2 separate regions of the Homo sapiens genome follow, and region 2 is linked to region 1. Evidence: fine-mapped expression QTL. A gene starts in region 1. The other region holds a variant in brackets. All regions are shown on one strand. Distances are between the middles of the regions.

The links. PIP is the estimated chance that this variant, and not a neighbour inherited with it, causes the effect.
Region 2: its variant is fine-mapped to the expression of BRD7 in whole blood (TOPMed, PIP above 0.99). The same link has a PIP of 0.9 or more in blood mononuclear cells.

The regions. Positions count from the first base shown.
Region 1 is chr16:50,364,374-50,372,373 of GRCh38, reverse strand. BRD7 (bromodomain containing 7) reads left to right here and starts at 3,386. Exons shown (of 17, transcript NM_013263.5): 1 at 3,386-3,648; 2 at 4,076-4,284. The coding sequence starts at 3,600. RefSeq lists silencers at 3,208-3,457, 3,488-3,997.
Region 2 is chr16:50,332,981-50,340,980 of GRCh38, reverse strand. It overlaps BRD7 (bromodomain containing 7), which reads left to right. Exons shown (of 17, transcript NM_013263.5): 6 at 895-1,005; 7 at 6,086-6,270; 8 at 7,284-7,407. Among named protein-coding and RNA genes, the nearest start is that of BRD7, 32 kb to the left of the region's middle. RefSeq lists an enhancer at 5,296-5,375. The variant A/C (reference allele first, on the strand shown) is at 3,429.

The DNA of each region.
Region 1 (8,000 bases):
GCCACCTCCAAGCTGAGCTGCGCAGAGATTTCCTGGGCATGCCACACCCCCCAGTGGCCAGGCTTTCTCCTCCACAGACTCTCCCGGAGGGCTCCAGTCACCTCGTGTCTCCACCAGAAAGGGGAGGAAGGAGGAAGAGAATTATTATCACAACACAGTAATTATGATGTATTCATTTGTCCAACAAATATTTCTCCAGGGCCTGTGCTGAGCCCAGCTCTGTGCTAAGTGCGGGGCACACAGCCAGGAGTGAGACAGACCTAGTCCCTAACCTTGGGGACCTGGGAAGCCAGTGGACAGATGGTGGACACGCACACAGATAGGGAAGAGATATTCAACATAATTTTGGAGGCTGTAGGTGCAATGGAGAGAAACAAGGCATTGCACAGGCTGAGGGAAGAGGGGAAGGGGTGTGTGGGTTGGTGGTCCAGAAGCTTCTCTGAGGTGGTCACAGGGGAGACCAAGGTGATGTGAGGGCAGGAGCCACTCCAGGAGCTCAGGGGAGAGTGTTCTGAACACAGGGAAGAGAAGCAGGGGCTTGGGGCAGGAGGGAGGAGGGGGCAGGGGGATGGGGCTGGAAAGAGAATGAGGGCCAGATCCGGCCCTGAAAGCCAAGGTGCAGATTTGGCTTTGACTTCGAGTGAGACAGGGAGCCACAAGATGGTTTTGAGCAGGAAAGTGACATTCACAAATATTTAAAAGTTAGTATTAGCAGCTGATATTTATTGACCATTTACTATCTACCATATCAGGCATTACTCTCGGCACTCTGACCACATTATCTTCTTTGATCCTTACAACCACCCTGTTGCAGCAGCACACCCAATGACCTCACCCTGGTTCCAAGGTTCAGAGGTAGGCAGCCCTCTCAGGACATGCCAAAGTCACAGACCCTGTAAGCATCTGTGACCCCAGGACTCAAGTCAGCTCTGTCTCACTCACTCAAGAGCTGTTGGGCTGTTGGGGGAGAAGTCTGGGCACAGCTTAACTGGGGCCTCTGCTTCTGGGACTCTCACAGGGCTGTGATCAGGATGTCAGCCAGGGCTGAGGTCTCATCTGAATGTTCCACTGAGGAAGGATCCACTTTGAAGCTCACACAGTTGCTGGCAGGATTCAATCCTTCAAGGCTGTTGGACTGATAGCCTCAGTTGTAGCCGGATGTCAACTGGGGCCCAGCCTCAGGTCTTTGTCACATGGGCTTCTCCAGCATGGCAGCTTACTTCATCAAAACATGCAAGCCAAGAAGGCAAGAGAGACGGTCAGCAAGTAAGACTGAAGTCTTATGTATCCTCAACACAGGAGTGACGTCCATCATCTTTGCCATATTCTATTGCTCTGAAGCCAGTCTCCAGGCCATTCTACACTCACTGGGAGGTCATGAATGGCAGCAGGCAGAAATCTCTCAGGGGAGTCTGCCCGAACCAGGACCGTGCAGCTCAACTAGCATTTTCTGGTGCCTTCTATGTGCCAGGCATGGTATTAGTGCTGAGAATTTAAAACTAGATGAATTTGGGCTTCCACTTCCAGGAACATTTTTCTGGGAGGTGTTTTCTGCTACGTACTCTTATTCACTTTCCATTGATGTGACCACTTTGTGACCTATGTAGAATCACTCTTGAGAGGGTAGGGAAATTACTAACTTGATAGTATGGATGAGTTCACCAGACCTTTTTCCTCTGAGGGGCATTTGGACAGTAGTAGTCACTGTGCTAGGCACTGTAAGTACCAAGGAGGTACCCAGGGTAATGAGGAGCAGACAGGTAAACCCACAGGTTGAGCCTGGAGCAAGGCAATGCCACAATAGAGGCCAGACCCACAGTGGGAGTTGGCATAGTGGTTCTTAAAGCAAAATAAGTTACAGACAGTGGATGAAAAGCTGAAACCAAGCTTTGCCCTATGCTTAGGGGGCCTAGGGGGCCTAGCTGGCTTGATTTCAGAGCAGCAGAAGGTCTCTTCCCCAACACAACCCCTCTTCCCACACCCTGATCTCTGCCTCACGGACACCAGAGAGGCTTGTTACAGGGAAATAATAGACACACACTTTTAGCTTTCATGAAAAAGCAACTCTCTTCATTAGAAGAACCTCATCTTCCCTGGCTAACCATAGAAGTCTGGCAGGAGCTGCCAATCACAGACTCCACTTCTCTTGGCCAAGGGGGTGAGGGGGTAGATTTGGCATCCAGGCCGAATCAATCTCCCATCCCCTGTCCCATAAAACATGTGACACAAGCCAAGCCAATCAGAGTCCTTCCCTGGGACTGTTTTCCAGGTGAAGCTGACAGGAAGAGATCTTTTTCCCAGTTGGTCAGGACACTATAAAGAAGAGGCCTCAGAAGCAGATGGTGGCCATGTTTCCAGCCATATAGGAAAGAAGGGGGGAGATGGAGACCGATATACAGAGAGACAAGAGAGAGAGCGAGCTGGCATGCCAGTCAACAGCATTACATCCTTGGTTCCTGTCTTCCCTCTGGCAAGCTTTATTCTTGCCCTTTCTAGACATGTAAACCAATAAATCCCTTTTTATTTACTTGAAATAATTCAAATTGGTTTCTATTAGTTGCCAACAATAGGGTCCTAAAATATAAGCCTATAATTTCACCACTGAAGTTCAAGGTAAAGCTACAAATCTTCCTGGGAGAGGTGATTCATGGGTCTAAATTGTTACTAAAGTATAAATGACTGATAACAGATCCTTTCTTAAGAGGAGACTATAATTACGAGCTTATCTGAAAACAGACAAAGCACCATACAGCTAGAAGTAAAGACAGTCAAAACGTCTGGTAACCTTCACCTATCAGCACATAAGTTTTTTTTAAGATTAGAATCTTCAGTCACCAATGTGCTGAGTTTGCTGGGTCTGGCACCCAGTATGGGGTTCAGTCAATATCGTAAAAGGGAAGAAACAGAAGCAAGGGAAAGTGGAAAGAAAGGAAGAGTGGGGGAAGGAGGAAGGGGAAAAAAAGAAAAGAAAAAAAGAGGGAAGGAGACGGGAAGAGGAGAAGGAAGGGTGATGAGGGAGGAAGAAAAGAGAGAAGGAAGGCTTGAAGGGAGGCAGTAAGGAGGGAAGAAAGAAAGGAAGGAAGGAGGAAGGAAGGGAAGAAGGGAAAGAGAAAGAAAGAGAGGGAGGGAGTAAAAAGAAGGGAGGGAAGTGGAGACGGAGGGAGAGACACACAGAGACAGAGACAAGACAGACAAATTGAGGGGAAAGGGAGGAAGGAAGAAAGACGAGAGTCTGAGCGGTGGATCCCGCCCCGGCCCCGCCCTCGGCCCCGCCCCCGGCCCGCGAGCTGCAGCACCACCTCCGGTCGCCAGGGGCCGCCACCCGCAGCCGCCGGCACCCTGTGCGCGCGGCGGGCCTTCTTTCCCGCCTCTGCGCCGGCCGCGCGCCCCCCCCGCCGCCGCTCTCGGGCTCCGGCCGGGTCTCGCGCGCCGTCTTCTCGAGAGGGGCATCGCGCCGCCCGGCGCGCGCCGCCCCCCTGCCTCGCGGCGCGGGGTCTCGCGGGCCCCGCTCCCGCCCTCCGCTCGCCTGGCCCGGACCGGAAGCGGCGCCGCACGGCCTGGGCCTGGCGCGGGGGGCGGGCACCGGGGCCCGGTCGGACATGGGCAAGAAGCACAAGAAGCACAAGTCGGACAAACACCTCTACGAGGGTGAGGAGGGGGCCGGGGTGCGGGCGGCGGGCCCTCGGCGGCTCTGCCGGGCTTCCGCTCTTTCCCAGTGGCTCCGGGGCGGCCCGGGGCCCTTCCTTCCCACGGCAGGCCCAGGCCGGCGAAGGGGGCGCGTCCTGCCGGAGGCCGCGCTGCCCCCCGTGCGGCCGCGGCATTCGAACCCGGGTCCCCCTGGTCCGGTGGGTCTCTGGTGGGGAGACGTGAGGCGGGCCCGGGAGGCCTGGGAGCGTTCGGGGCGGGCGGCGCCGCCGCACCCCCGGGCCGGGGTCCGTCATTCAACAGGTGCTTCGCGGAGCGCCCAAAGCCGCCTCGGGCTTGCTGCGCCTTGGCGCTCTGCATCCTTAGCACTCCCTGGAGAGCCCCGATTTTAATCGACGCGCTTTCCTTTCTTTTCTTTTCTTTTTTTAAGAGTATGTAGAGAAGCCCTTGAAGCTGGTCCTCAAAGTAGGAGGGAACGAAGTCACCGAACTCTCCACGGGCAGCTCGGGGCACGACTCCAGCCTCTTCGAAGACAAAAACGATCATGACAAACACAAGGACAGAAAGCGGAAAAAGAGAAAGAAAGGAGAGAAGCAGATTCCAGGGGAAGAAAAGGGGAGAAAACGGAGAAGAGTTAAGGTACAAGTGGTTACATTGCTTTGGCTTTGCGGACGGCACTGCCTCTTCCAGGTGCCAACCTCATTTTATTTTCTTTGTATCTGGGGAAAACAAACGCCTCTAAGATCTGGCTCGTTTGAGGAGGAGCAGGACAGAATAGAGACATGAATCATCTATGAGTTTCAGCAAGTCGTTTTTGGATTATACTCTTAGGCAATTGTACTCGCACATCAGGTGAGGAAGCAGCTAAGTCCAAATTTTGAGGAGCTGCTTCAAAGAATGGTTTTTCCATCTAGGCAGGGTAAAAAGTCATGCTCAAGAAAGCCTCAGTGTTCAAGGATTGTCAAAAATAGTCATTTCAGAAGCGAGTGGGATCTACTGGGGTTTAAAGTTTGTTCTGAAATAAATATTATAATGCCAAATCTGTAATGAGCAACTTTAAATCTTTTAAAACAGTGTTGTAGTGTGTTGAGAAAATTTGGTCAGAAACCTGTAATGGAGATTGATATTCTTAACCATTTGCATTTAACAGAAAAGAATGAGTAGCTACCATCTTGGTTTGAAAGCTGGGCAAAATAATAATTAATGGCTGGGCCCAGTAGCCCACACTTGTAATCCCAACACTTTGGAATGCCGAGGTGGGAGGATTGCTTGAGGCTGGAAGTTCGAGACCAGCCTGGGCAACATAGCAAGGCCCTGCCTCTGCAAAATAAACTACAAAAATTTCCAGAGCCTGGTGGTGTGCACCTGTGTCCCAGCTATTCAGGAGGCTGAGGTGGGAGGATCCCTTGAGCCCAGGAGTTTGAGGTACAGTGAGGTATGATCATACCACTGCACTCCAGCCTGGGCAATAATACGAGACTCTGTCTCTAATAATAATAACATTGTTATTACTGTTATTAACTTTCCAAATTTAACCTGCCACTGAACGACTTATTACATCAATTATTGTGAAGGTAAATTTTCATAGGTTAGTTATGTAATTTTTCTTATGTTTATATATACAAGAGGAGCTTTCTCTTCCATGTGATTGAACACATTGCTAAGTCACCAAGTCTTAGAGATCTTATTTTGGGGATTTCTTAAGTCTATTCCTTCCCTTTTGTCCCAGTTTTTATTACCTTTGGCTAGGTAGGAGTAATGTTTTGTTTTCTTCCTTAAATTATAAAACCCATATATGCATTTGATTTTTTAAAAGTAGTTCATGTGGTGCAAAAGTACACAAAATGGAAAAAGTTTTCCTCACCCCAATCCTTCACATAGACTCCCTCTTCAGAGGTAACCAGTTGTTTTTTTTAATTAATAGTAGTAAAGTAATTCGTGAAGATGATTTTTAAAAGTCAAGAGTACTACACAGCTTTTTGACACAAAGCAGGCTGCTGCTCCACTCTGGACACTTTTTAGGTATTTTTCCTTGCCTACTTATTTCTATTTCAAAATAAAGGTTTATATTGCTATTTACTGATTTAGCAGTTTATATCTTCTACTGACATCATGTTATGGAAGATGAGAATTCAGTTTCCCTTGCTCAAGGTATAGGTACATCACAATTATTGGTTAAATCAATATTAAAGTGATTGTAGACAAGTATAGTATGCAAATATAGATCTGATCTTAACTAGTTAGATCATTGCTTTCATTTGTTTGGTTATTGCTTAATAATTCTTCCCAAACTCTAAGATTTATGAAACTCATTTGAGTTCTTTACTTCCTTTTTTATTTTCCTCTGGAGACATTTATCTTACAGCTTTCTGTCTCCTGGAGGCTGAATTAGTTGCTGTCAAGGCCTCCTGGGACTCTCCTTCACCTGCTTCCTGGATCTCATGCCTTCCTCTTTCTTGATTCATTCCCTTGTTCTGGTGGACTCTTAACTCTAGGAACGTCCTAAGAAAGCATACACGGGGTAGATTTTATAAGTTCTAACATGTTTGAAAATCTGTATTCTGCCCTCATACAGGTTGATGGTTTGACTTGTTTAGATTGAAAATTATTTTCTTTCAGACTTTTGAAGGCATTGCTTTGTTGTTTTCTGGCTTCTAAATTTGCTGTTGAGAAGTCTGTTGCCATTCTGATTCTTAGTCCTTTGCATATGACCAGTATTTGCTAACTTGAAATTTTTAGGATCTTCCCCCCTTATCTTCAGTGTTCTGACATTTCACAATGAATACTTGTGCCTTCAGTTCAGAGCTGTGTGCTTGAAGTATTCCTGTGTTCATTTCTTTCCCTCCATTTTTTCTTTTCTTGGTTTCTGGAACTCCTGCCCTTTAGATATTAGACTCCTGAACTGATCCTCTAATTTTCTTATGTTTTTCTCATATTTTTTCTGGGTGTGTGTGGGGTGGGGGAGGGTTCTTCCTTCAGGGAACATCCCTAAAATTTCTGACTTTTCCAGATTTATTTCAGATCTTATACCTTGAATTTCCAAGAATTTTTTCTTGTTCTCTAACTGTCCTTTTTGAATTAGCACCCTGTTCTTGGTTTTAGATGCAGTATATTCTTTTCTTTCTCTGAGGATATTAATCGAAGTTTTTTCCTGTTTTTTTCTCCTAAGTTTTCTTTTGCTCCCTGCCCTGTCTCTCTCTCCCAAATTCTTCCATTTATTTGTCTGTCTCTGTTTTCTGTTGAAAGCATCCTTTAGTTGTCTGTTGAGCTTTTGCAGTTTGTACAAAGCTGAGTAAATGCTTTGTACCTAGACAGAGTTTGTCAGTTGATGGACTTTATTGTAGAGTGACTAACAGGGACTCAGTCATTTTGGTGAAGAATGCCCCAATGTCTGTACCTTACAGATGTTTTCTCTGGGATTTTTAGTTTCTCCAGAGAAAAATCCTCCTCTCCTAGGAGATGGATTTTGCCAGTTTTATCCGTGTTTCTGGAGCCAACTATGGGGCAGGGGCTGAAGGTCTTACCACCCAGTTTTCTGAGTCTGGCATTTCTCCTTATTTTGGCTCGTCTCGAGATTTGGAGACTCTCAGGTTCCCTGCCTCCTCCAGTTCTGAGCTTTTCCAGGGTTCTGGAATTTAGGCTTTTTTCAAAGGTGTCCACCTCTCTGCATACGGGAGTATCTTGCTTTCTCTGTTCTGCAAATCACCCCATTTGCCTTCCGTCTCCCAAGTGTGTTGACGTGGCTTATCAACCTTTGTCTCTTACGTGCTCTTTGTTCCGGCCATCGTCTTGTTTAACAAAAGTTGAGGTAACCACTTTGAACCACTCTGGTTTTTGTTCTGGCAGTTACCACCATAATCCCATTGATACATTAATATTCTTCGTTTCTTGTTTTATTCGTTATCTTTATATCGATTACATAGTATTTAGTTATATGGATATACCATACTTATGATTATTACTTTTAAATCTTACATGTAATACTGCAGTGAGCCTCATTGTACACACATCTTTGTACACTTGTGTAAGAATATCTTCAGGATGGGTTCTTAGAAGTGTTCTCCCCCCTGTGTTCCAGCCACTCTATCCTTTCTTGACTGTGGCTCTAAAGATCATTAGTCCCATTGTATTTTGATGTCATTGCAACCTAAAATGGGTTCATATCCACAGTCTCTTCTGGACACACCTCTCAGAATAGGACAGGTAGGGGGATGGTTTCTATTTCACATTCAGGGCTAGAGACTTCAGATCCTCTGGGGTGTCACTGGTTCTGTAGGGACTGTTTGGGTCATTCTTTTTTTCCAGGCTAGACCAGGGAAGCAGGGAGAGATTCTTTTTGCTAGTGTTATGTAGGG
Region 2 (8,000 bases), 31 kb after region 1:
ACCTGTCATCACTATTAAATAGTGGAATTTGAATTTTTTTTGTTTTTTAAACAAATTTGTAGGGGGCAGATTCTCTTTTCTTGGGTTTTTCTTTCAACTTAGTAAGGCCTTGGCATAATGAATCGCACATTTATAGATGTAAAAATTACTTAACTATGAAAGCATGCAGTGGGGTCAAGTTCTCCAGCACATAGCGGACTTGGAAATTTAAGCCAAAAAGACAGTTTTGGTAATTTGGCTACTCCAGTTACATGTTTTAACTCCTTGAGGTTGTATGGTTTATTTCACATTGGCATGGTTTTGCAACATTCTGCAAATTATGTTTAGTTTATGATAGTATCCAAACACATAAAAGTAGTGTAAATGTTTTAACATTTTTTGCTCAGTTAATGTGAATTTGGCAGGAAATACTGCGATAATTTAGGACTGCTCCGTTTTCAGTCAAGATCTGAAATAAAATGTTCAATTCCTAAATGGAAATTTAAGATGTTTGTTTTAAAGCTAGGAGTAATATTTTTTTTATTTACATGAACTACTCAGCTAAAATCATTACATATGAAATAGAAGTATTTTCTTCACATTTTTTTTATGTGCAGTAAGATTATACTGAAGAAACCCATTTAAAAGTTTCATTCTGGGATCTACAGTTTATATACAGGTACTATAAAATATTTAAGAATTTGGGAAATAATATAGCATATTTAAATACATTTAGCAGTATTTGTTTTGTTGGTGAGTCTTAAAACTTAATAAATTACTGTTAGTATTGTTTAGTAAATAAAGAAAGGGATGTTGCTTTTTAAATTTTTAGAGGACCTGTATATTTTCAACCTGGGGGTGCAGGGTAGTTTGTTTTGCATTAATGCATTTTCTCCCTTAATGTTCTTTCTGCAGGATAACTTCAAACTAATGTGTACTAATGCCATGATTTACAATAAACCAGAGACCATTTATTATAAAGCTGCAAAGAAGCTGTTGCACTCAGGAATGAAAATTCTTAGCCAGGTAAAGGAAACTCTTTGTCATAAATAATAGTTATTAAAATCTGTGTCGCTGTTTGTTGGCCATAGTAATACAGATACAATACAGTATTGATTTTATTTTATTAGCAGGTTATATTATATTAAATAAAGTAGAAAATACTAAATGAAAAAAATTTTAATAAAGAGAAGAAAATTAAGACAGGAAAATTCTTACTTGGAATCAATACAAATAAATATTGGCATTCACTTGTAATTATCTCTTAAGACATAAAACATCAGCTTGAAACATCAGCCTGAATTCCAGGATAAGACTGGCTGAATTGTGAGAACTCTGAAGAGGAAAGCTCTCTGTTTGCATTTGTAGGGGTGGAATCTAACGTTGGTCAGTCCTGTCAGAAGCACAGAATTTCTAGTAAGAAAATACAGTCATGCGCTGCATAATACTGTATATACAGACTGCATATACAGTGGTGGTTCCATAAGATTGTAATACTGTATTTTTACTGTACTTTTGTTATATTTAAATGCACACATACTTAGCATTGTGTTACAGCTGTCTGCAGTATTCAGTATGGTAACATGCTGTATAGGTTCCTAGCCTAGGAGCAGTAGGCTATATCATTTAGCCAGGTGTCTGATAGGCTATACCATCTAGGTTTGTGTGAGTGTACTCATTGATGGTCACACAACAAAATTGCCTAACAGTACATTTCTCAGAACGCGTCCCTTCATTAAGCTACATGTGACTATATACAAATGAGAGAAAATTTGAAACTGTCTCAAAACCACCTCTCCACAACAGCAGACTCTTCCTTAAAGGGTAAGAATTAGTGCATAGTAAGTCATTTGAGGTCAGAGAAGTGTGTGCGTAGGCACAGACACATCATCATCAAACTGCAGGAAAGAGCGTAAACATGAGATATTATACACAGTGGCAAAAAATTACTAGTGTCCCCAGGACGACAGTTGATAAAAGGCTTTGAAGGGTAAGCTGAGATGATCACTGTGCATCCGCTGGAGAAAATAACTCGCAAGATAAGCCATATCTTTTGAGGTTTTTCTCACCACTCTGAGTGGGAGAAACCTATGTAAGAGACTACTTTAGGGAACGAATCAAGGGTGATCCTGGCACCATACCATACCATGGCAGGCAGGCAGAAGAGAGTTTTCATTTTAGCTCTCTTCCACTAACTTGTGGACTTTGGGCAAGACATTAACTACCCTGGGACTCAGTGTTCTCATCCCTAAAGAAGGGTTTAGTCTGTGGTCTCCAAGATGATTTCTAGCATTACTGTTCTGATTCTAGATAAGAGGTAGAGTAGAGAGGATACTATGAAAAAGAACCACAAGATAGGACAGGGATTTTGCAAAGAAGAAATGAGTGGGTATAAGACACTGGTAGAAGGAGAAAGGAATCAGAGTCCAGAGCTTGAGCTCACATTCAGGGGAGTTAAAGGATGATAAAAATGAGTCGTGCATCTGCATGTGGTTTTTCGATTTTTATGGTGATTCATTTTTCTGTATTACAGTTTTACATTTAAAGAAATGCCTTGGTGTGCAGATGTCTGAGTGTCTGTATGCTTGGCTGAGAGATTCTTGGATTCACTTAACTAGAGAAAGAAAAACATGTTTGGATTGTTGATTATTCTTGCGCTCCTAATATTTAGACAACTTTGGTTCCCACCCTTTCCTAAAGACTTGGGAAACTAATGGAAGCCAGTTACCCATCTTTGACAACATTCGCAGAGGAAAGAGGAATATGAAATGTTTACCCATTCTTTGCAGGAAGACTCTCAGAATCTAGAACCATGCCATATTCCAGGTTTAAAGACATGGAAATGCTTCTTGTTAATGTATTTGAAGTAAAAATGCATTTGTCAAATGCAGCCTTTAGTCACTCCAAAATATGTACATTGAATTGGGTGGTGGGAGCCTAATTTTTAATGACCTTTGATTTACCACTTCCTTAAGTAATGTAGTTAATACAACAAGCAAAAGATTCCATTATCTCTTGAATTTTACTGGCGTGTGGAATGGTTGAAAGCACAGAAAATAAAATTTTCTTCACTTTCCCTTCCCTCTCTCCCTCTTTCTTTCTCTCTGTTGTCTTCCTTTTTTTCAGATCTTTTGCTGTTGAGGAGCCCCACCCATCCTGTGTTATTAGCTTCCTATTGACTGTTCTCTCCACCCTACAGGGGAGGGGTCGTCACAACAGTGATTTTTAAACGTTTAAATTTAGACCTTTTGAGTTAACTCTTCTAATAGTTTGTGCTCCAAGAGAGCCCAGCACACCCTTCCGTGAATGGTGTCTTTTCAAAGATAACTGTTTTTGAATGTTCATTGAAAAAATTGTAGAGTAGTCACTCATCATTTTTTCAGTTACACTCAAATAACAACTATTAGTAGACGTGTTATTTTTATAAAGAATGAACAGATGAGGCCAGG[A/C]ACAGTGGCTCATGCCTGTAATCCCAACACTTTGGGAGGCTGAGGTGGGCGGATCATCTGAGGTCAGGAGTTTGAGACCAGCATGACCAACATGGAAAAACTCCGTCTCTACTAAAAATACAAAATTAGTTGGGCGTGGTGGTGCATGCCTGTAATTCCAGCTACTCAGGAGGCTGAGGCAGGAGAATCGCTTGAACCTGGGAGGTGGAGGTTGTGGTGAGCCAAGATCACGCCACTGCACTCCAGCCTGGGCAACAAGAGGGAAACTCCGTCTCAAAAAAAAAAAAAAAAAAAAAGAAGAATGAACAGATGAAGAGTAACTTTTTATCTCCTAAATAAATACTTGAGTAAAATGCTGCATTGTAGTACAAACAAAGTAGTACAAACAATACTATTTGTAGCATAGTGGCTTTGAAATCAGACCAATCAAGGTTCAAGTCCTAGCTCTACCCTTTGGAAGCTGTGTGACTTTAGCCCAGGTAACCTTTGTCAGCCTTTTTCCTGTCCTGTAAAGTGGGGATAATAGTAGTACTTACCTCATGGAGTTGTGTCTGGCACATGGGTAAGCACTAAGTAAATGTTAGCTATATTATTAGCAAAGAACCAGCCCTGTTAGCCATTTAATATTGTAAAATTGAAGATCAATAATGTGCTGACTTGGAGGCATTTTAATTACCAAAAAAAGAAAAAGACATTGCTTTCAAAGGAAAATTAAACTTCACTCTTTCCTGGGACTTGTTTCAAGGTTTAGAAACTTTCTCTAATTGAATTTATTTTGTGCATGTCGTGTTTTTTAAAACCCCAAAGCATTCTTAATGTAAGTTCTGCTTTATAAAATTCTAGAGTGGAAATAAAATTATTACTGAGAACTTACAGAAATAATTAAACTCACTAATATTTTTAATGTAGCAAAATAAAACGTGTTTTTAAAAATCAAATAAGATTGCTTTTTGTTGTTGTTTGTGTTTTTTGTTTTTTGTTTTGTTTTTTTGAGACGGAGTCTCACTCTGTCACCCAGGCTGGAGTGCAGTGGCGCAATCTCGGCTCACTGCAACCTCTGCCTCCCGGGTTCAAGCGATTCTAATGGGTTAGCTTTTTAAGTGATACTATTGATTTTGTCAAGGATTCAGAGAAACTTTCAAACACTAATGTAAATTAGTATGTAAATTGGTATACCTTTTCTGGAAAGCAGTAATTATCAAAAGTCTCAAAAATATTCATTCCCTTTGACTTTGTTTCCTTTCTAAGAGTTTATCCTAAAGAGATACTGGTTCCTAGAGAGATTTATTTATAATGATGTTGATGGTACTTTTATTTATAATAGTGGAAACATGGAAATCTAAATGTTCAATCATAGGCCATTAATTAAATCATGGTGTAGACGTGGGATTAAATAGTTATTAAAATATTTTAAATATCTATTGATATGGAGAGGAAATGCTTATAATTTATTAACTGAAAAAATGCTTTTTACTAAATATTCAGTATAATTCCAATTTGCTGGGTTATGTAATGGTTGGAAAAGTACTGGAATAATAAACTTGTTAACACTGTTCTTCTCTGGATGAGACATTAGGAGGATTTTTATTTTCTCCTCTACCCATATTTTTATTTGTCCACAATAAAATAGATCGCTTTAATGGTTTTAAGATTACTTTAAAAGTCCAGTAAAAAACAGCAAGAACTGTGTTGGTGAGGATGTCACCATCTGCACTACTAATAGAGCATGGTGTGATGAGGAAAGGCCCAACATGAGTGACAGCAAGCCTAGTCTTAGTTGCTGGTTTAGTGACCTTAGGTGAGTCATTTGTTGTTCCTGGGCTGCGTTGTTCTTGTTTGAATGGCCTCTGGTTCTTTCTAGTTCTTAGTTTATGTTACTCCACAGAAGTCTTCCCTGCTGTTGCTGTGCAGCCCTAAGGAGGTTGCACTCTATTTTACCCAGTGATAACTTTCAGAGTACAGGCAAGGTAGTCAGTAGAAACAAATATGCCTTCTTAAAATTTACGGAGAAACCTCAAGCCCTTAACTACAATGAAAATTTCACAGCACATCATTGCAGCGAAAAATTAAGCACATGTTTCACAGAATAGAAACAAGACTTCTTTGGTTAGCGAAACCATTCTGCACTCTGAGGAAGGAACTGTGCCACCAACTGTCTTCTCCTCAAGGCTTGTTGTTTTCACACAGAGTGAAATGCCAGCGTCATCCGTGAGCACACTGGGCTACCAGAACAGAGAGGGACTTCACACGCTCACATGCCCTAGGCTTTGATACACCTAACAGTTCTTAACTGTCAAAAGATAAGCCTGTCTGTTAAACACAAAATGTTAACACACCATTAAACTAAATTTTAGTCTTCCAATTCAGTACTTCAAAGAATACTTAGTCTTAATTCATACTTTCTCCTCTGTTAAATTTCTGATAGGGCAATAAAGTTGTAAAGCTTTCTATGAAGTTGGAAATTAAATTTTAAGAATTGAAGGTGTAGGCATTATCATGGTTTCCAAATACAATACTCTCTTGGTATATGATTACATTTAATTGTTTTTCTTCCCTGGTTAATGACAGGATAAGTATAAACTCCTGTGGGGAAAAAAATGCATTACTTTAAAAGTTAATGACAAACATATAATAAGAATATTTTCGAATATGTTTAGGAAAGAATTCAGAGCCTGAAGCAGAGCATAGACTTCATGGCTGACTTGCAGAAAACTCGAAAGCAGAAAGATGGAACAGACACCTCACAGAGTGGGGAGGACGGAGGCTGCTGGCAGAGAGAGAGAGAGGACTCTGGAGATGCCGAAGCACACGCCTTCAAGAGTCCCAGCAAAGAAAATAAAAAGTAAAAGATCTTTGGGATGTTAAGGTCAAACTGTCTTCTTCAAGCTAGTAAGGGGGAAAAATACTTATTCGGGGCCTGACTTGGGAAGACCAAGTGCTAGTGTGTCGGTGGTGGTGGTGTTTTGGCATGAAAGTCCATTTTGATGGTGTGATACCCCTCTTCTCATATGAAGCACTATATGGGATTGTCCAAACACAGTTCAGAAAGCAGTTCTAATGTGTATTCTTATTGAAGTAGTTTTAAAACCTATAAAGTGTCTTTTGGGACTGATATGGTCAGTGAGTTTATTTAAATAGAACTGTTTGTTTAAGAAAAAATGCATAGTCATTACCTCCTTCCATAAAGGAGCAAGGAGTTCAGTGGGAGCACAGGCACTGCTGCGTCTTAAGCAGATGGGCTGTCACTGCAGCGTGCCCATGTTTTCCACCCAATGTCAGCTGGTGGGAGCAACGCTGAACCACTGTTCCACCTAGGCAGCCACCTGTGCAGCTGACGGCAGCCGCATCTGCCCGTTCACACTACTGGGAGCCAGCCCTGACCGCCCAGCACCTCACTGCCAACTTTGGGGAGGGTTGTAGTTAGCAGTTTGGGATTTTTGCTGTCATAATGCAAAGAAAGTAAACTAGTGACAAGTTTTTCTTTGTTCTAAGATTTACACACTTAAGTGCTTGTTTTAAATTTTAAAAATCAAACTTTAAAAGAACAATGGTATATTGTTCTCCCTTCAAAGTAATGTTTGAGGTAGAACTAATTTTTTTGTAAGTTCCCAGAAAAACGTTTAACACAAGTAACACTGGACAGAAAAAGGTAGGGAAATAACATGTTAGGTGTGCCTTACTGTTTCTGTTCTTAAATTAGAGACCCTTAACAGGTCATCAAGGAAGTAAGTTTCAATGAGTGACTGTAGTACAAATGTCTCCACTTTAGTTGTATTCATATTTAGAATTCATTTGAATGTTTTCATCTTACTTATCTTTGTTTTTTTTTTACTTAGTATTAATGTATATTTTCAGGAAAGACAAAGATATGCTTGAAGATAAGTTTAAAAGCAATAATTTAGAGAGAGAGCAGGAGCAGCTTGACCGCATCGTGAAGGAATCTGGAGGAAAGCTGACCAGGCGGCTTGTGAACAGTCAGGTGATTGAGCTTTGCCTTTTCTTTTCTCTACCTACTGATTTGGGGCATCTGAAACTTTTAGTTTTTAAATTGCTTGCGTATTTTTAATCCATATCTGCCATAGAGCTCTTCATCAGTATAATACTTAGCAGAAAAACAATTAATAATGGACAGACAATTCCCTACAATGGGTTTATCAGGGTGTTAAATGCATTTTCAACTCATGATATTTTCAACTTACAGTGGGCGTGTTGGATGTAACTCCATTGTAAGTTGAGGACCATCTGTGTTCATTTGTAAAGTACATGATTAATCTTACCCTCTTTTACTGGATTTTTAAAAAATGAAGTTATAATATGTTCTAAAATTGGAACATGAACTACAGAATTTAAATTTACAGGAAAACATTTGTATTCTGGTCTTTTGAAATCATATTGTTTAGCATGTTGGTTTTATTTAATTTTAGATTCAAGGGGTACATACACCATTTTGTTACGTGGGTATATTGCATGATGCTGAGATTTGAGCTTCTCTTGAACCCATCACCCAAATAGTGAACATAGTACCCAGTAGGAAGTTTCTGAACCCTTGCCCCCTTCCCTCCCTGCCCCCTT